Linked DNA regions of Homo sapiens. The protein of the gene in region 2 interacts with the protein of the main gene of each other region in a biochemical or structural test. Each region holds a gene or a part of one and is shown on either strand. Other genes may lie near its edges.

The links.
Region 1: the proteins of COPB2 (region 2) and RGS4 form a complex in vitro, tested with the Homo sapiens proteins (one study listed by BioGRID).
Region 3: the proteins of COPB2 (region 2) and COPG1 form a complex in vitro, tested with the Homo sapiens proteins (one study listed by BioGRID).

The regions. Positions count from the first base shown.
Region 1 is NC_000001.11:163,071,800-163,077,802, forward strand, and holds the end of RGS4 (regulator of G-protein signaling 4), read left to right. Parts: intron 1-105; exon of another isoform or gene 106-344; intron 345-595; coding exon 596-700; intron 701-1,005; coding exon 1,006-1,067; intron 1,068-1,198; exon of another isoform or gene 1,199-1,478; intron 1,479-1,578; exon of another isoform or gene 1,579-1,656; coding exon 1,657-1,823; intron 1,824-2,521; coding exon 2,522-2,761; 3' UTR 2,762-5,003; downstream 5,004-6,003. UniProt on the Homo sapiens protein: Inhibits signal transduction by increasing the GTPase activity of G protein alpha subunits thereby driving them into their inactive GDP-bound form. Activity on G(z)-alpha is inhibited by phosphorylation of the G-protein.
Region 2 is NC_000003.12:139,386,145-139,394,504, reverse strand, and holds the start of COPB2 (coatomer subunit beta'), read left to right. Parts: upstream 1-4,857; 5' UTR 4,858-4,954; coding exon 4,955-4,957; exon of another isoform or gene 4,958-5,036; intron 5,037-6,140; exon of another isoform or gene 6,141-6,226; intron 6,227-8,360. UniProt on the Homo sapiens protein: The coatomer is a cytosolic protein complex that binds to dilysine motifs and reversibly associates with Golgi non-clathrin-coated vesicles, which further mediate biosynthetic protein transport from the ER, via the Golgi up to the trans Golgi network.
Region 3 is NC_000003.12:129,273,155-129,278,883, reverse strand, and holds the end of COPG1 (coatomer subunit gamma-1), read right to left. Parts: intron 4,047-5,729; coding exon 3,908-4,046; intron 3,691-3,907; coding exon 3,592-3,690; intron 1,591-3,591; coding exon 1,460-1,590; 3' UTR 1,111-1,459; downstream 1-1,110. UniProt on the Homo sapiens protein: The coatomer is a cytosolic protein complex that binds to dilysine motifs and reversibly associates with Golgi non-clathrin-coated vesicles, which further mediate biosynthetic protein transport from the ER, via the Golgi up to the trans Golgi network.

The DNA.
Region 1 (6,003 bases), on a different chromosome or scaffold from region 2:
TGGAACTGTGCACCTCAGTGTATTCTCCCTCTATACCTCACAGCAGGAACTGCTTGCCCCCCCCCCCCCCCCCCAACATACATGGCTGGAACTGAATAGACTTTTACTTTCCCGAGGTGCTTCTACAGTTCCCTCTGCCAGCAGGGGAACAGATGGAAATAGCAATCACCTGCCAGAAGGTGGCGTGCAGCAAGGATGTGCATCTTTTGCCGCTACTGCTTTCTGATTCCTAAAAATTACTCAGAGATCACTCATGTGTTCAGTGATTCAGGTTCTGTTGAAGATACCAAAGATATTCGGTTGGTCAAAATGACGGGCATATAAAGGCTTCTCAGGTTTCTGAGGTAAACTGAAGGGTCAGAATTCCAGTTGTGGATGAAGGAAATGGTGTTATGACTGCCTCAAGGTTTTGTAGCAAGTCATAGGGAACCAAGAGGAATCTTGTTTTCCTCAGAGGTCATGCCAACTCCAACTCCCGTTCCCTAAACTGTCTCTGAGCCATAGACTAGTAATGGACTCTTCAAGCTCTACCATTAGGTATCTTTTAAAGAAAGCTGGTTATTACTATTTATTCATTTTTTTCTCTTCTGTGCAGTGCAAAAGATATGAAACATCGGCTAGGTTTCCTGCTGCAAAAATCTGATTCCTGTGAACACAATTCTTCCCACAACAAGAAGGACAAAGTGGTTATTTGCCAGAGGTAAGAGAAAAGGCCTTGGTGAAGATGTACTTAGTATTAACTATCTGATGATGGGGATGTTCTGTGAGAAGGAACTTGTGCTCCTAGTTAAGCCAGATTTGGATCAAGATAGCCTCCATTTTCATGGAGATCATAACTACATTTGAAATTTCTATACATTTAGTGAAAAACTGCCCTCATCAATAACATATTTTGTCATAACGATGGAAAATAAAATCTTTGCCTTCATTCAGGATCTTAGATTTCTTGCCCCAATTTTTTTACCATGGCATTCCAATTATTCTGTTTCTCTCTATTTTTTCTAGAGTGAGCCAAGAGGAAGTCAAGAAATGGGCTGAATCACTGGAAAACCTGATTAGTCATGAATGTAAGTCTGACAGCAACCTGGGATGAGGTACTCTGGATAAGACAAGTTATATTATGCTGGTCTAATAGAAACTGCAGCAAGGCCTGGCTTCTTTCTGATGTTCAGACTCAGGAGACTCTTTAGGTCTTAAATTCAGTCTGTTTAAAATTTTAATATGCCCTAGAGCTTTGTGATATACAATGAAAAGTTTATGCAGGAACCATGTGGAAAACCATCTCTCTCATCACAAGGAAAAACGGAAGAGAGAAAAAAAATGATAAATATCAATACCTTCTTGCAAAATCAATCTCAGTTTCTCTTTCCCAAATTGACCTTGGTAATTGATAGCTGCATAGGCATTTCAGAAGCAAAATACTTCCTTGAAAGAGGCTTCCAACTTGAGTAAGAATCATTAGGTAGAACTGGGAACCACTGGATATCAAACACAGATTAGGGTTACCTGACTCCAGGTGACTTGAAAAAAGCAGGGGAAAAAGGGATTGCTTGAATCCATGCTTTATCCCCCAAGTACCTCAGCTTTATGTGAAATAGCATATCCAAGAGGCCAACCAGTGTGATGACAACTGTGGTCCTTTCTCCTGTATCATAGGTGGGCTGGCAGCTTTCAAAGCTTTCTTGAAGTCTGAATATAGTGAGGAGAATATTGACTTCTGGATCAGCTGTGAAGAGTACAAGAAAATCAAATCACCATCTAAACTAAGTCCCAAGGCCAAAAAGATCTATAATGAATTCATCTCAGTCCAGGCAACCAAAGAGGTAGGTTTTTTATGGATACATAAAAATTGTACGTATTTATGGAGTATGTGTGATATTTTGATACATGCATACAATGTGATAACAATCAAATCAGGGCAATTGCTATATACATATCTCAAACATTTATTATTTCTACGTGTTGAGAACATTCCAAATCTCCTCTTCTAGCTATCTTAAAATATACAATAAACTATTGATAACTATATCACCCTAATGTGCTATCAAACACTAGAACCTATTCCCTCTACCCAACTTTCTATCTATTCCTTCTACCCATTAGCCAACCTGACCAAAAAGGTAAGCTTTTATGGCAGAGAACTCTCTGGATCTTAGTGAAGGTTCCTAGAATAGTGGAGCTGACTATCATAATCTTGACAACCCCAAATAAATCAGTTTTTTAAAAAATCTCTTTTATCCATGTGGCTTACCATAACCTCCCTGCATGAATTTTTCTGATGAATCTCCCCAATTTGTTAGACAGAACAGAAGATCTTGCCCTGCTCTCTCTAAAGCAGAAAGGTTCATTCTGAACCTTTCATACTCTCTCACATGTGCCAAGGAGGACCCCAATGTCACTTTTGTTTTTTGCTTCTGAAATACAGAGGGTGCACTGCCACTTACAAGTCACTACAAAGCATACAGGCTTGCATCCTCAACAGGGATATAGGTCTAATGAAGCCTTGGCCTTTGCCCCTCAGGTGAACCTGGATTCTTGCACCAGGGAAGAGACAAGCCGGAACATGCTAGAGCCTACAATAACCTGCTTTGATGAGGCCCAGAAGAAGATTTTCAACCTGATGGAGAAGGATTCCTACCGCCGCTTCCTCAAGTCTCGATTCTATCTTGATTTGGTCAACCCGTCCAGCTGTGGGGCAGAAAAGCAGAAAGGAGCCAAGAGTTCAGCAGACTGTGCTTCCCTGGTCCCTCAGTGTGCCTAATTCTCACCTGAAGGCAGAGGGATGAAATGCCAAGACTCTATGCTCTGGAAAACCTGAGGCCAAATATTGATCTGTATTAAGCTCCAGTGCTTTATCCACATTGTAGCCTAATATTCATGCTGCCTGCCATGTGTGAGTCACTTCTACGCATAAACTAGATATAGCTTTTGGTGTTTGAGTGTTCATCAGGGTGGGACCCCATTCCAGTCCAATTTTCCTAAGTTTCTTTGAGGGTTCCATGGGAGCAAATATCTAAATAATGGCCTGGTAGGTCTGGATTTTCAAAGATTGTTGGCAGTTTCCTCCTCCCAACAGTTTTACCTCGGGATGGTTGGTTAGTGCATGTCACATGACATCCACATGCACATGTATTCTGTTGGCCAGCACGTTCTCCAGACTCTAGATGTTTAGATGAGGTTGAGCTATGATATGTGCTTGTGTGTATGTCTATGTGTATATATTATATATACATTAGACACACATATACATTATTTCTGTATATAGATGTCTGTGTATACATATGTATGTGTGAGTGTATGTATACACACACACACACACACACACACACACTTTTGCAAGAGTGATGGGAAAGACCCTAGGTGCTCATAACTAGAGTATGTGTATGTACTTACATGGGTGTTTTGATCTCTGTTCTTTCATACTACATTTGAACAGGGCAAAATGAACTAACTGCCATGTAGGCTAAGAAAGAAATGCTAACCTGTGGAAAGTTGGTTTTGTAAAATTCCATGGATCTTGCTGGAGAAGCATCCAAGGAACTTCATGCTTGATTTGACCACTGACAGCCTCCACCTTGAGCACTATTCTAAGGAGCAAATACCTTAGCTCCCTTGAGCTGGTTTTCTCTGATGGCACTTTTGAGCTCCTAAGCTGCCAGCCTTCCCTTCTTTTCCTGGGTGCTCAGGGCATGCTTATTAGCAGCTGGGTTGGTATGGAGTTGGCAGACAGGATGTTCAACTTAATGAAGAAATACAGCTAAGGCCTTGCCAGCAACACCTGCCGTAAGTTACTGGCTGAGTGAGGGCATAGAAGTTAAAGGTTACTGTTTTTATCCTCTATCCTTTTTTCCTTTCCTGATCAAGGTGCTCTTCTCATTTTTTCCTGAGAACCTTAGCCATCAGATGAGGCTCCTTAGTTTATTGTGGTTGGTTGTTTTTTCTTTATAATGGCTCTGGGCTATATGCCTATATTTATAAACCAGCAGCAGGGGAAAGATTATATTTTATAAGAGGGAACAAATTTTCACAATTTGAAAAGCCCACATAAGTTTTCTCTTTTAAGGTAGAATCTTGTTAATTTCATTCCAAACATCGGGGCTAACAGAGACTGGAGGCATTTCTTTTTAGGCTCTGAGACTAAATGAGAGGAAAAGAAAAGAAAAAAAAAATGATTGTCTAACCAATTGTGAGAATTACTGTTTGAAACTTTTCAAGGCACATTGAAATACTTGAAAACTTCTCATTTATGTTATTTATGATGTTATTTTGTACGTGTTATTATTATTATATTGTTTTATAAATGGAGGTACAGGATATCACCTGAATTATTAATGAATGCCCAGGAAGTAATTTTCTTCTCATTCTTCTAAAACTACTGCCTTTCAAAGTGCACACACACGCGTCCACATACACTGCATTCGTTGCTCCAGTATAAATTACATGCATGAGCACCTTTCTGGCTTTTAAGCCAATATAATGGGCTGCAAAATGAAGACACCAGAGTGTATGCATACAAATCTCACTGTATTAAAGATGCAGGTTTTCTAATTGTACCCTTCTTGTCTCTCTGGCAATCTTGCCCTTAATATCCCTGGAGTTCCTCATCAGTGTCATTTTCTGTTATACACAGTTCCACAATTTTGTCTCTAGTTGACTTCAAATGTGTAACTTTATTGGTCTTGCCCTATTATAATTGTCATGACTTTCAGATTGTATCTGAACTCACAGACTGCTGTCTTACTAATAGGTCTGGAAGGTCACGCTGAATGAGAAGTAAATTATTTTATGTAATACATTTTTGAGTGTGTTTTTCAGTTGTATTTCCCTGTTATTTCATCACTATTTCCAATGGTGAGCTTGCCTGCTCATGCTCCCTGGACAGAATACTCCTTCCTTTTGCATGCCTGTTTCTATCATGTGCTTGATAGGCCTCAAAGCTAATGCTTCCAGTGAAACACACGCATCTTAATAATAAGGGTAAATAAACGCTCCATATGAAACTATTTGCTTGGAAACACATTAATGATCCAGAGACATGCTATGAGAAACATCAGGGTGTAGGGTGACTTTAGAAAAATACTCATACTGAGTCTTTAATCCCTCCTGTGCCAGTGAACTCTGGGAAAGAAAGTACAAACTGAATATTGTTTATTCTTTAGTTCATGCCACTGCTCTGCTTGGCTCTACTCATAGAACCAAGGCAATCTTAGCTTCAGAGACTGCAAAACAGATTAAGTGATTTGCTTGCAGATTCTCAATCAATTTTCAAGGGATAGAGTTCACCTTCCAGAGCCATTCTTTTATTTCCAGTTACCCGCCTGTTTGAGAGATGATAGAGCAGTGGGAAATTGAGAGAGTTGAAAGGAGCTATAGATTCTTACCCAAACTTCAAAAATCCTTCCCTCCCTTTTGTTAATTCTCTTTCCTGGAAAAGAGGTCATAAAATGTTCACATCCTCAGTAATAGGCCCTGTGCTGTGTCTATTATGTCATGAGACTCCCATTTCCTGACCCTTCTTTCCCATTGTAAGAGTAGTAGTTACAAGGTGTTAAGGATAGATGATCTTCAACACTTTTGAGAAATAGATCCATTTACGGATCTGGTAAAAACTATGGACCGAACCATCTTTTAAGAAAAAAATTCAGAGAGGAATCTAAATTTTGTGTGCTTTGAGGGGAAACTCTCAGAATCTCCCCTCAAAACTATCATTCTTCTCTTATACTATAGATGTGTCAGACTCTCACTGGGACTGTATAGTTGCTGCTCCCTGTATTTGATAATATCTATCAAGAACTGCAGGGTAATTCAAAGTCACGCTATTAGCAGCAAGTGTGAGCAGTGTTGGTTTCCCCAGTCTCTACATCCCTCATCCTTTCTTTCTTCTTTATGGTTGTCTATTAAAGAAATAAAAAAAAATATTGGCTGACCGTTTTTCTGAAGATAATGTATATCAAGGACCACCTTTTGAAAAACACTCATTATTCGAGAACAAAGACACAACAT
Region 2 (8,360 bases):
ACAGCACATTGTGGTTGGTCAATGCTTTTGCAATCAGTCCAACATTTGCCTCTAAGTGTTGGGCAACCACAAACTCCATTTTTCTTGGAAGACAGTTCAGTGGATCTCCAACTCAATTTAGTCTGCTGCTGGCTGCTACTTGACTATGTGGTCAAAACTTTTGCTTTCATTCACCTCATACAGAAATCAGGCTGATAATCTTAACATTTCCTCTAACAGGAAAAGTAACTGACATGTGATGATGTATCAGTAATGGAGCATGAAGATTACCCTACTTAACATTCTTAAATGGTTCCCCAGAGCCTACAGGATAAAGTCCAGACTCCTTTAACTGGCTATCATGGATCTTCAGAATCTGAATCTCATTTATCTTTCTAATACCATTTCTCAATCCTCCCCCTTCTTACTCTCTGGCCCAGGCATGCTGAACTATTCTTAGCTCTCTGGAAAAGTCAAATGCTCTAGATATACTCTCTTGACATTTACCTGGCTAGTTCCTACTCACACTACAAAGGTCCATTTAGTGGCCTGCATCCATTTGGAGCCTATCATAATTAAATCAAGCATGCCCTAAATGCAGGAACAGTCAACCCACTTACAGTGAGACACCTCTCACATCAACATTTGCCTTTCTTCACTAATCGCTTGGTAAAATAGTTTATACTGATGACCTCTACTTTTTTTATCATCCAATAATTTCTAAACCCTTTGTAAACTTGCCTTCCCTACCATTACTCAACTTTTTTGAAGGCTGATAGTGTCCTCATAATCATTTATTTCATTGGCAATAGTTTTGGCAAATACTAAGCCTCCTTAAATTCTCTAAAGCTATCAAGATGCTAGTCACCCAGTCACATTTTCCCTTTCTTTTCCTTCTGTGACATAAAGTTATTCTGGGTCTCTTATTCTGATTGTTCCTACACTGACTCCACTTCTTTTTCTTTCACTTTTTCTTCTTTCCTGATTCTCTTTCTCTGATTGTTCCTTCATTGGCTCCACTATCATTCACTGGCTCCACATCTTCCTCTGATTAAAGATATTCTTCTGGGTTCATTAGATTAAAAACATCAGCAATAGGATGCCTCCCACTCCCTCAATTCAACAAACGCATTTGTGTATCCAGTTGATTCTAGCTTCTCAGGGAAAAAAGGAGAAATTACAATCCAGTAAAAAAAGATGTTAGTATCATTAAATATAACTTAGGTTCATATCTCAGGTCTGTCAGTCATGAGCAATGTGGCATGAGGTATACTACTTAATCAATTTAAGCCTCTGTTTTTCATCTATAAATTGGAGAAAATAATGCCTATCTTTTAGTATTACTTTATGAATTGCAGTATGCAAAGTACATATTCCAATGGCAGGTAGGTACATAGTGGGCATTTAATAAAAATTTTTCCTTATTACTGTTATTTCCACACTCACTTCCACCAAACTTATATAGTCTGTTTCAACTTCTTTTAGTGTGTCATACACATCAACAAAAGACAAATCATCTAGAGTACAGATATAAACAGGTTTCCTATCTGGCCCAGTAAGTCCCAACTGCTTGACTCAAAGCTCAATTTCTCCCGATTTAAAAATCTTCAGGTTCTAGCCCCAAGCTTCCTCTTCAACCTTCTCCCTCACTGCTCTTCTAAATGAATACCATTCTCCAAACAAATTGGACCTTTTTTGGTTCTCAAACATGCCGTATACTCTTCACCTCAAAGTCCACCTCAGATTCTACCTCCTTTATGAAACTTATCTCCCTAGCTGGATATTTTATCTTCAGAGTATTTTACTGGTACTTCTCTCAGAAGGTACTCATATTCTGCCTGGTATTCAATTATTTGTGCATAAATAACCTTTCCTGCTTATAAATTGTAACCCCTTTGAAGGGAGAAACTAGGTTCCTATTCGTGCTAGTACTTACCACTTAGCTAAGTGATAACACATGTATATTTAAAAATAATAAACAAGGCTGGGTGTGGTGGCTCAAGCCTGTAATCCCAGCACTTTGGGAGGCAACGCAGGCAGATCACCTGGGGTCAGGAGTTCAAGATCAGCCTGGCCAACATGGTGAAATCCCATCTCTTCTAAAACTACAAAAATCAGCCAGGCGTGGTGGCGTGCACCCGTAGTCCCAGCTACTGGGGAGACTGAGGCAGGGGAATCGCTTGAACCCGGGAGGTGGAGGTTGCAGTGAGCTGAGATGGCGCCACTGCACTCCAGCCTGGGTGACAATGTGAGACACCATCTCAAGATAAATAAATAAATACAAATAAAATAAAATAATAAACAAAAAACCCTGACTCTTTCTCAACGAATTATTTTCCTCAACTTCTTATGAAGAGGTAGGAATAGGGTGGGAAGGGAACAGTGTATATAGGGTACTTACAGAGGCACTGCAACCTGAATTCCCACTTGGAATTCTCCCAGCTGCTGCAAAAAGGCAGGGCTGAAATAGCTATTATAGAAATTGACTAGGTAAGACTTTAAGATCTGTTAATCGATTGCAGTCAACCTCTTGGGAAACCCTTTACCAATCTGCTAAGCTTGTCTATATTTCTTTTCTTCCCAACGGTTATTTTTCCTAACCTTCCAGTCTCCTCTAAACCAAGTAAACAAAAGATTTTAATTTAAACCCACAGTCGAACGCCTAGTGAAATACACGTGTATATTTAATGTTATGTATTAGTTCCTATTTAAGAATTTTATTTCTTTAAAATTTATTTCAACCAAAATCCAACACCAAATTCTATGGGTAATATCTTAAGGCAGCACCTAGTATAGTGCTTTGTATATAGTACACATTCAGTATGTAATGGTTAAAAGAGTGAATTTACAGTCTACAATTGCAGGACTTAATTTTGGCTAATTGCAGTGGAAAACATGAGAAAAGATATAGTCCAAGTAAGAATGACACTTGAGGGTTCAGGCCCGCAACACCAGCTAGGTAGACCCTTAGGTGGCCCAGTGGTATACAAAGATTTAAGCATTCCCAGCTGAGCCCCTTGACAATAGAGATACATCATTTTATTTTGTATCACTTAGTACTGTGCCAAATCCAAAAATACTCTCTCAAGTGCAAGAGTATTCAGGAGTTAGAAATATTGAAAGTTCCACTATTCAAGCAAATTAGGTATAGTTCATATAATTTTTTCAACTCAGGATCCTCAGTCACTCCATAGAGTAAGCAAAGTATGCAATTACTAGAATTATTAGTCTCAATTTACATAAGATCACACTGCTGGCACTAAACTCCAGTTCCAGACTCTTTTTTCCACTATTGAATGCCACAGAAACATAAAAAAAAAAAAAATGGAAGGATCTTTAGAAACCATGTAGCTGGATTTTTTTTAAGATGATGAAAACTGAGGCCCATGAAGAGAGTCACATTAGCTCAAGGCTCCTACTAAAGCCAAATAATTTCGTGCAAAATCATCTCCCTCTGATTATCATTATCTACACACACAAATACATAATTTTTCTTTTTGCCTTTCTGAAAATCTGGAGGTCTGAAAAGACTTTAAGATTTCTCTCAAGTTAAAAATACACGTTTGTACGTGTAACCAGAGGGCAAGTTTTCTATGGTCCACATGTTTTCTTAAAAAAAAAAAAAAAAAGGAAATACAGGAGATGTGCAGTGCGTGTGACAGGCAAATGTTCTCGAACTTTATTGTGTAGTGTAACCCCTATGGCACAGGCCCTTAGAATTCAGCCACATTAATGAAGAGATATTTTTATGTAGTAGAAAGAGCACAAACTTTGAGGTGTTTTGTTTTGAGACAGAGTCTTGCTCTGTTGCCCAGGCTGGAGTGCAGTGGCGCGATCTCAGCTCACTGCAACCTCCACCTCCTGGGTTCTAAGCGATTCTCCTGTCAGCCTCTGGAACAGCTTGGATTACAGGCGCCCGCCACCACGCCAGGCTAATTTTGTATTTTTAATAGAGACGGGGTTTCACCATGTTGGCCAGGCTGGTCTCGAACTCCTGACCTCAGGTGATCCACCCGTTTCGGCCTCCCAAAGTGCTGGGATTACAGGCGTGAGCCACCGCGCCCGGCCCAACTTTGAGGTTTTATCTGCCACTTACTATGCAGTCTTGGCTAGAACACTTAACTTCTTTGAGCCCGAGTTTCCTCATCATTAAATGGAGATAATTCAGGTTTGATGTGAAGATTTGAGAAGAAGGTATGTCTGACACACTGCCGAAGATCGATAAATATTTGTTGAATGAATAACACAGCCAGCCGAAGCTCAACAAAAGACACATACACAAACACACCCACACGGTTGGGTAGTTGCCGTCTCCCGGGGAGCTCCAGAAGTGTAAGCTCTCAGCCCTCCCTCTGACTTCAGAAGCCTGAAGCTACTAAGCCCGCAGCCCGGTGCGTCTCTTCGCAGCCTTAATCAGTGCCCGGGCAAAGGCCTGCAGAGAATTCTCTGGGCCTCGCACCAGGCCCCAAGAACACACTGGAGACTCGTTTCGCCTTCTCCCTCGCCGTTTCCCCCCTCCAGGGCCAGAGTCCGAGGAAGCCCGATAGCGGTTCTCGGCCTCCGAAACACAACTACAACACTGGGGAGCTTGCCCTGCAGTTAGCGTCCAGCGGGGATTAGGCACTTCGTTTTCCTCATCGTTTCAATCTCTATCTTCTGGTCGGGGTCCAAGCTCAGCGGCACCACGTCACGGCCCTTAGTGGTCTAGGCCACACCCCTCCTTCCCGACAGCCTCAAGTCCACTACCAGCGGTCTGGAAGGCCACGTTGCCTAGGAAACTGGGGCGGGGCTTGGGAAACGACGGCCCTGCGCGCAGTTTGCGCAGGCGCTCCGGCCCTGGCCTCTGACTATCGCGAGAATCGGCTCCCGGAAGTTCCACGTCAGTCAGTCTGACGGTCAGTGGATCGGTGGGTTTATCTCAAGGCCTGAGTAGCCGGTAACAAACGAGGGTTCCCGGGATTGGACCGACGCAGCCATGGTAGGTCCAGATCCCGTAGAAGGGAGCGGGGTCCCATAGGTTACGGCCGATTCCTGGAGCTTCTGGACTGAGGGCCGCGGTAAGCAGTGGTCTGGGCTCCCGCTGCGGCCGCCGCCTCAGGCCTTGCGGGGTCTTGGTCGTTTGATTCCAGGAAGGGAGAAGGCGGTGGGGCCTAGGGGACCGGGGTGATTTGGGGAGGCAAAGCCTGCTAGTGAGGGGTTTTGTCTCCCCTGGCGCTTGTGGCGCTTGCCAGAGCTCCTGCAGTCTGCAGCGGGATCGGTGGTGTAGGGAAACACAGAAGCCGAATGTGTTGAACTCCGTAGGAGGCTTTGGTAAAACTAAAGTTTGCCTTTAAAACGGTGGTAGTTAATCTACACTCCTGTTGGGCTTATTCTGGGGATAGTGTGTGCTGGCTACAAACTATAAACAAGCAAAGAAGCCAAAAACAAATGTATATGGAGTCAAAAATGGAATTTCAAATGCTTTGATATCTCAGCTGTTAGGTTTCTAAGGGGAGAAGAAGGGTTGGGAGGAAGGGGGTGCTGTTTATAACACTGGCTGGTGTGCTTTTATGCATTTGCAAATCCAGTGGCTGGTAAGAATAGTAATTGTTAGAGCACTTTGTTATTATCACCGTAACCCTAAAAAACGCCCTAGACTAGTTTGCACAAGAGTGTTATAATAATAAGGAAAGAAAACGATAGTATAAGAATATCTTCCGTCTCTATTGAAAATGCAAAAAAAAAAAAAAGAAATTAGCCGGGCGTGGTGGCGGGCCCCTGTAGTCCCAGCTACTCAGGAGGCTGAGGCAGGAGAATCGCTTGAACCCGGGAGGCAGAGGCTGCAGTGAGCCGAGGTCGCACCACTGCACTCCAGCCTGGGACAGAGCAAGACTCCGTCTCAAAAAAAAAAAAAAAAAAACTTGTTATGAAGCACAGAATCAAACATTTTGGAGCTTGAAGACGCTAGGGATTAAGTCCCTCATCTTAAGTTAAAAAATTTTTTTAAATTATGTTTCTACAAGGTTAATTGTGGCAAAGTTGGAACTAGGAAAAAGTTAGGAATACTCCCAGGGAAAATGCACAGAGAAACAAACATTTTTGCATAAAATTCAGTGCATTCATTCACAGACACCCCCCCCCACAATCCATGGACCTTCTTTTTTTTTTTAATTTGTTTTATAAAAAATATGGAACGCTTCACGGATTTGCGTGTCATACTTGCGCAGGGGCCACGCTAATCTCCTCTCTATGTGCTGCCGAAGCTAGCACTATCCGTGGACTTTCTTGGGCACCCAGGTTACAGTCCCTGAACAAGACCTCAAGCCTCTTAATTAGAGCACTTCGTATTACTAACTACCTGATGTAGTTTGGGTCTGCTGTGGTTGCAGTAATGGACGTTTTTGGAAAAGGCTCTTGGATCTGCCTAATTTCATTTTCTTTTGCCGTCTTTACATTTACCAGTGTATTTCTATAATGAAATATTGCCTTCATTCTTTATATATTTTAAATCCTTTGTGGAAAATACAAAACGTGAATTCATTCATTTGTACATTTACCATAGAATATTTAGTGTCTGCCATGCACTTTGCTAAACATGGCTGCCTAATTCTCACAGCAGCTGGGAGATAGAGTTATATGTTTGTGAAGTGGTTACTGTAGGTCAGGCACTGCTCTAACTGGCTAACTCTGAATTTAATTCTTACAGCACTAAGAGGTAGATAATAATAATATTCCTGTTTTACATAAGTCAAACTTGAAAGAGGTTAAGTAAATTTGCCCACTATTGCACATCTGAAATGAGTGGTGGAACTGAAATTTAAATCCATCATGGCTTTCTAGTCTTGTGTTATGGTATCTGTTCTTAAACCCCCATACTCAAATATATAAGGTGATCTGGAGATAAAGACATGTATAAGCAATGACCCTGGCTTTAAGGAGGATCTACTCTAGAAAGCAAGAAAAGATGTGTACACAAGTGTACCATGAACAGTTAAAATGAAATCCTATAGGATTCCCTAGGAAAGAATGCTTCAGGCTAGGGTAACTAGAAAGGTCTTACTGGTGGCAGTGGCATTTAAGCTGAGTCCTAAATGCATCCAGCTTTTGGAAGGTGGAGGGATATATTTAAAGTTGAGGATACAGTGTGAGCATCCTAATCATCTTTGTCCCAAAGTACCTAGTACATTGTCTTATTCAAAATAGTCACTTAACTGTTGGGAGAAATATTATCACAAGAACCCTTGCCTGTTCGTTCTTTCTTTCTTTTCTTTCTTTTCTTTTTCTTTTCTTTCCTTCCTTACTTCCTTCTTTCCTTCTTTCTTTCTTTCTTTCTTTCTTGACAGAATCTCACTCTGTCGCCCAGGCTGGAGTGCAGTGGTGCAATCGTGGCTCACTGCAACCTCCACCTCCCAGATTCAAGTGATTCTGCAGCCTCAGCCTGCCGAGTAGCTGGGACTGCAGGCGCGTGCCACCACGTCCAACTAATTTTTTTTTTTTTTTTTGTATTTTTAGTAGAGACGGGGTTTCACCATGTTGGCCAGGCTGGTCTCAAACTCCTGACTTCAGGTGATCCTCCCGCCTCAGCTTCCCAAAGTACTGAGATTACAGGCATGAGTCACCACGCCTGGCTGCCTGTTCTTTTTTAAACTGAGATTTGTGCTTTGGGAGTATGTAGAGGTTTACTGGGGTTGCTCAGAGTTCATTGGCCCAACTTATGGAGCATCACTTTTACTCAATAATCAATAATTTAAAATATTTTAAAGTAAAATGTTCACAATTTGTAAGTGTCCAATTTCCTCATTACTGGAGGAAAATTGTGAGACATGCTGGCTTATATGAAAACCCTCACCATGGTTCCTGCCTGGTACATAATAGACTCTTCATACCTGTTGACTCCATAGAGATTTAAAAAGAAGTTAAAATTTGTAATAGTAATTTATGGGGCAGAATTCAGAAATGAAGTAAAAAGCCTTGATTTTGGGAACTAGCAAGGAATGTTAAGATGATGATTTGAAAGTGGAAAATTGGAGCTGGGAGACCGAGGTGGGTGGATCACAAGGTCAGGAGAGGAGTTCGAGACCAGCCTGGCCAATATGGTGAAACCCTGTCTCTAAAAATACAAAAATTAGCTGGACATGGTGGCAGGCACCTGTAGTCCCCAGCTACTCGGGAGGCTGAGGCAGAATCCCTTGAACCTGGGAGGTGGAGGTTGCAGTGAGCCGAGATCACGCCACTGCCCTCCAGTCTGGGCGACAGAGCAAGACTCTGTCTCAAAAAAAAAAACAAGAAAGTAGAAAATTGGAGAGAGGAAGGGACTGATGACAGTGAAAACATTTTTGAGGAGATTGAAGAGAAGAGCCAGAGAACTCTGATCTTTTAAAGTAAGAGGTAAAGGTTGTTGC
Region 3 (5,729 bases), about 10 Mb from region 2:
CCTCCCTCGACTCTCCTCACCCCCGCTCCGCTCCGCTTTGGCCACCCGCGTCACCGCCCCTCACGTCAGCCCCGCCTCAGCCCGCGCTCCCGGCGCCAGGCCCCGCCCCCAAGGGCCCTTGGTTCCCGCGGTGCCCTCGGGCCCCGGAGGCGGCGTCTTCTCCCCTCCGGTTTGGGATGAATTTTCTCCCGTTTCCCCAGGAGACAGTGACTGCCTTGGGAGACATATCGATCCCAAGCTTCTCGGGACTCCACTTTCCTCCATATTGGCCGTTCCCTGGCGGGGTTAACCTTCCTCCCCGCCCCCAGCGTGTTTCAGGGCTGGCAGGGAAGGTTCCCGCCGCGCTGAGTCTAGGGCACAGGGTCATGGAAGGCGGGAAACCAGGAAACTCCACTCCTTACTTCACAGTCCTGCCAGCTGCCTCACAGTGCGAGGCAAAAATGGAGGAACACTGAAGAAATGAAAGTCAGAAGAACTTCCAGGAATCGCGCACTTCGCCCTCAAACATTGGTGGGCACTAGAATAAGCCTTTCCTGCCCCAGCCCCTCAGCTGAATCTCTAAGGGTGAGGCCCAGATTTTTAAAACAGCCCTTTCGGGTGTACTTTGGCCTCAAAGTTGGTAAAATAGCCTGGCTTGAGTTTAAAAGCCTGCTCCCCTTGGGACCTAAACCGGAGATTCTTCATCTGCAACCAACAGAGAATGCTCTAGAGGGCTGTTCGCCTATGCTGATTCGCTGAACTGAACAGGGAGCAGAAACCCCAGGGCACACTCCATGTAAGACCAGATGCTGGAACGATCAGACACAGGACCCAAGCCCTTTGGAGCCTCCATTTATCGACTATCAAAGGAGGATGCGTTGTGAAGAAGCACGAACGGGAGGGAGTGTGAACTCTGCCTGTTAGCTGATTCACTCAACCACCCTCTACCGCTCCCACCCCTGGGCTTGGTGCTGGGACAGCGATGACGGGGAGAGGGTCCTGCCTCACAGGACTACAACAGCCAAAGGGCTGTGGGTGCAAGGGGGACAGGGCAGGTGTTCTGCCTCTTTAGGGGAGGCCTTGAAGGGGAAGGTGGAGCCCTGAAGCATGAGTCTGCAGAAGTAGCAATCATTCAATAAATACATGCTGATTTATTACAGGGATAAGATGGTTTCTTGGGGGATAGATTCAAGAGGAGTTGAGAATGTTTTATTCATTTACAATGTCCCTTTCCTGGAAGGGTGGACAGCAAGATTTAGGACAAGCTAAAATCATCCCCTATTTAAAAAAAAAAAAAAAAAAAGTCACCAGCAAGTAGTCCCGGGTGGGAGGTGGGAGCAGAATAAAAAAAAATCTGCAATGATTCCTAATTGTTTTTCAATACAGAAGCTTGGGAAGGGGTTTCTGCCAGTTTCATGAGGAAGGCACAACTTCCAGGTAGTGTTGGGGAAGGGTATGAGGTCCTATGCAGGCTGGCCTCTTATCCCACAGATGCCAAGATGATGTCTACTGGCAGCTCCTCCAAACTTCTGGCTGTCACCTGCATTGTCACTGTGTCCAAAAGCAGCAGCCGGGAGCGCACCAGGATGTCATGACCACCCCGGAACACACCTAGAAGGGAAGAGAGAAGTACAGATATATACAGCAGAAGGGACTGTACAGGGCAGGCTAAGGATGGCATTTGCAGCAACCCATGAAGGCAGCTCTGGTGTAGTGAAACGGGCAGGAGAGCTGGGCTGAAATCCCTGAGTGAGGGATTTCACTGTGAAAGTCACTGTCTCTCAGCCAGGCGCGGTGGCTCACGCTTGTAATTCCAGCACTTTGGGAGGCTGAGGTGGGCAGATCATGAGGTCAGGAATTCGAGACCAGCCTGGCCAACACAGTGAAACCCCATCTCTACTAAAAATACGAAAATTAGCTGGGCATGGTGGTGGACGCCTGTAATCCCAGCTACTCGGGAGGCTGAAGCAGGAGAATCGCTTGAACCCGGGAGGCGGAGGTTGCAGCGAGCAGAGATTGTGCCACTGCATGCCAGCCTGGGTGACAGAGCTAGACTCCGTCTCAAAAAAAAAAAAAAAAAAGAAAGTCACTGTCTCTCAGGACTTCAGTATCCTCAACTACAAAGTGGCAGGGATGATAATACCATATTTCAGGCTTCTGCTAAGTTCAAATGAACTGATGGACATAAAAGGCTTATATCTCATGTCACAGAGGCTCTTGCACGTTGACTGAATCTGAGAGCACAAATGAAGGGGACAGCCCCACCACGAGAAAACCACAGGGCAGGTGTCTGCAAGACCCAGGGGACTAGGTTGTTTCAATGTGGCTACAAACTGTCAGCTGTAGGCAGGGTACTGAAGCAGAGCCTCCTTTCAACCCTGTTTATAAACACTCAGCCAAAAAAAATCATCCCATTTCCTTTTGTTAACTGTTTTAGGTATGATAATTGTATTGTCCTTTAAAAAAGGGAAGGGGTCATTCTCTCTTAGAGAAACATACAGATACAGGATTTACATATAAAATGCTATTTCTGGAGTTTGCTAGTAAATAATCTGGGAAGGAGAATGAGTGTGGGTACACTCAGCCAACCCTGTAGAAAATAAGACAAAGGATATGAAGACAATGATCAGAAAAGGAAATACAAATGCCTCAACATTTAAGAAGATACTTAACTTCATTGAAAATACAAAAACTACACTAAGATATCATTGTCCACACAGACTGGAAAAGATCATAAAGTGTGGTAACATATTATGTTGTCCACAGTGTAGGAAGAAAGGTATACAATTCTATGGAAGGCAACTTGGAGTTATTTATCAAGATGAGAAACACAAATCACTTTGAACTGGTGATGCCTTGGAAAATTTATCCTACAGATATTCTCAGTGTACACATGCAAAGTAAACTGTGTGTGTGTGTGTGTGTGTGTGTGTACACGATTATTTACTGTAACATCTGTAATAGCAAGAGATTGAAATCAAACTAAATGTTCATCAGTAGTGGCTGTTCCATAGAATATGTGGTGCATCCACACAATGGAATACTAAGCAACTATAAAAAAAATGAGGATTCAGTTTGGGATGAAAAAAGTTCTGGAGATGGATGGTGGTCATAGTTTTACAATAGTGTGAATGTACTTAATGCCGCTGAACCATACACTTGAAAATGGTCGAAATGGTGAATTTTATGTATATTTTACCACAATTAAAAGAAAAAGAATGAGGAAGCTCTACATATTGACGGGGAAGATCTCTAAGATGCAATGTAAAGTGAAAAGCAAATCGGAGGACAATATATATACCATTTGTACATAAACATTTGAGTTAAAAAAAGGAAATGCGTTCCTATTAGCTTTTATAGCCATAAAATAACCGCAAGGTTATACAAGTATTGTTTGTAATAGTAACACTGGTCGCTTCTCGGAAGGGAATCTGAATGGCTGGCAGCCAAGGTAGGGAGGAAACATTTCGCTGCAGATTATTTTATACTTTGTGAATTTTAAATGCTGTGAATTTTGACTCCCCATATTTACAGTGGAGTCCTTAGCCCAGGATCCAGTGGCATCCAGGCTGTAAGCTATCCAGGCCCTCCCCATCTAGAAATGCCACTTACCAGCCAGGAGCAACGTGTGGGTGTTCTTGTTATCCGGCACTTTGTCTGACCTCTCACAAGGGTGCATTCCCAAGAACTTCACAATATTACCCACAGCCTCTGTAATGAGAAATCCCAATATTGTTAAGCCATCTTATCTGCCCTTTGTGCCACCACCACTCCCCCATGTTCTGAAGGGCTTTTAATGAAGTGGCATTTGACATATGTGCTCCAGACATGGCCCTGGATCCTTGGAGAGAAAAGGGATGAGCACTTCAATAGTAGCCAAAGATCTTGAACAGTAATTAGGCCAGAGATGGCATTCCCAGGATTTTACCTTCAAGTGTCTTGATGGTAGACAAGGTGAACGTTTCCTCCTTCTCAAATTCATCCCCTACCTCATCCCAGGCTGCTTCGAAGTTCAGTTTCATGACCTTTTGAATGTGATCAGCTACAGTAACTTCCAGATCTTCCAGCTGGAGAGATGGAGGTAGAAATCAGGCACCCATCTACACACCTACGGGCCTCTGCTCTGAACTCATCCACACATCCCTTCCTGCAACTCTTTCCACAGGTGCTTGCTCGGCACTGAGGACTGTGCTAGACTCTGGGGACATAGAGCAACTTGACCAGGTACCTATCCTTGAGGTGCCCAAAGGCAAATGGTATCCCTTCAACAGAAAACGCCCTAATCCCAAGTACCAATCTACTAATTCAGCCTAGAGCCGCCTGCTGTGAGATCACATCTCTTCTAAGCCTGCCTAGTGTCAGTGCTTCCAGGACCTGGCATGCAGGGAATTACATAGCATTCTCAGAGGTCTGCTTCCTATGCCTGTCCCTCCTAGGGGATGATGAGCTCTTCAGGACCAGCAGCTGTTTCTAGTTCAGCAGAAACTAGCAGAAACCTCCTACCCCAGCTGTGTCCTCTGGATTTGACAGATCCTGAATCTCTATCTCCATTTCAGCTGTGTCTTCCCTGAACTTGACACATAATACTCCCACTGAGTCTACATGAAGGTTCCCCATTCATTCTCCCATCAGATTTTCACTGAGGCCCTACTCCTGTGGATGTTTACAGTGTATATAAATACAACTTAGACCCAGCTCTCTCTCTCTTTTTTTTTTTTCTTCATCTCTGGATGGGCTCAAACAGACCCAGCTCTCTCAAGGAGCTCACTTGGTCTTAGAGCAGCTCCTGCCTCGGGGTCATTTCCAGCTCAAGGAAGGTCCATCCATCCTCAACTGTGACTCTAGGATGACACAATGGCGAATGTCAGTTGTATTCCACTGTGACTGTCCCTCTAGTCAGGAGGAGTTCTAACAGTCCCCATCCACAGGCTGAGCATAATGGTCTGCACTCAGATGGCCCTGAGCCACTGCCCCAAAGTCAGACCTCAGAAGGATCCTGTACTTAGTTCCACCGAGCTAAGATAGGAGAATTTAGAAGGGCTATTCCAGTGCATGAAAGGACTGCCCAGCACAGCAAACAGGTCAAATTTATCCAGAAAGCATTTGACAAGAGGAATCAAAATGTCTTAAAATCATGCTTACCCTTTGACCCAACTATTCTCCTTCTAGGAATCTATCCTAAAGAAATAATCTAAAATGCAGATAAAAATTTGTATCTAAAGGGATATTTAATGCAGCAATATAAATAGTGAAAATATGGAAACCCAAATGCCCAACATTAAAGGAGTGAAAAGTCAATCAAGTTTTGACATAGTATATAACAGTATTTTAAATCCACTAAAAAAATTGTGTTTATGAAGTATTTGTAATGATACTGGAAAATACACTATGGTTTTAAAATAGCAAGGTCTACACTGTAAGAATGATTTCAATTATACCACTTCCCCCCAAAAATAACTCTAAGGATTATGAGTAATGTTTTCCTGTTGTTCATACTTTGTTTTGAATTTTGTTTTTGTATTTCCCAAGTTTTCTTTTTACACATGAACATGTATTTCCATAAGTTTAAAAAGTTATTTTAGGCCGGGCGCGGTGGCTCACGCCTGTAATCCCAACACTTTGGGAGGCCAAGGTAGGTGGATCACCTGAGGTGAGGAGATCGCGACCAGCCTAGCCAACATGGTGAAACCCTATCTCTACCAAAAATACAAAAAATTTGGCAGGCATGGTGGTGGGCGCCTGTAATCCCA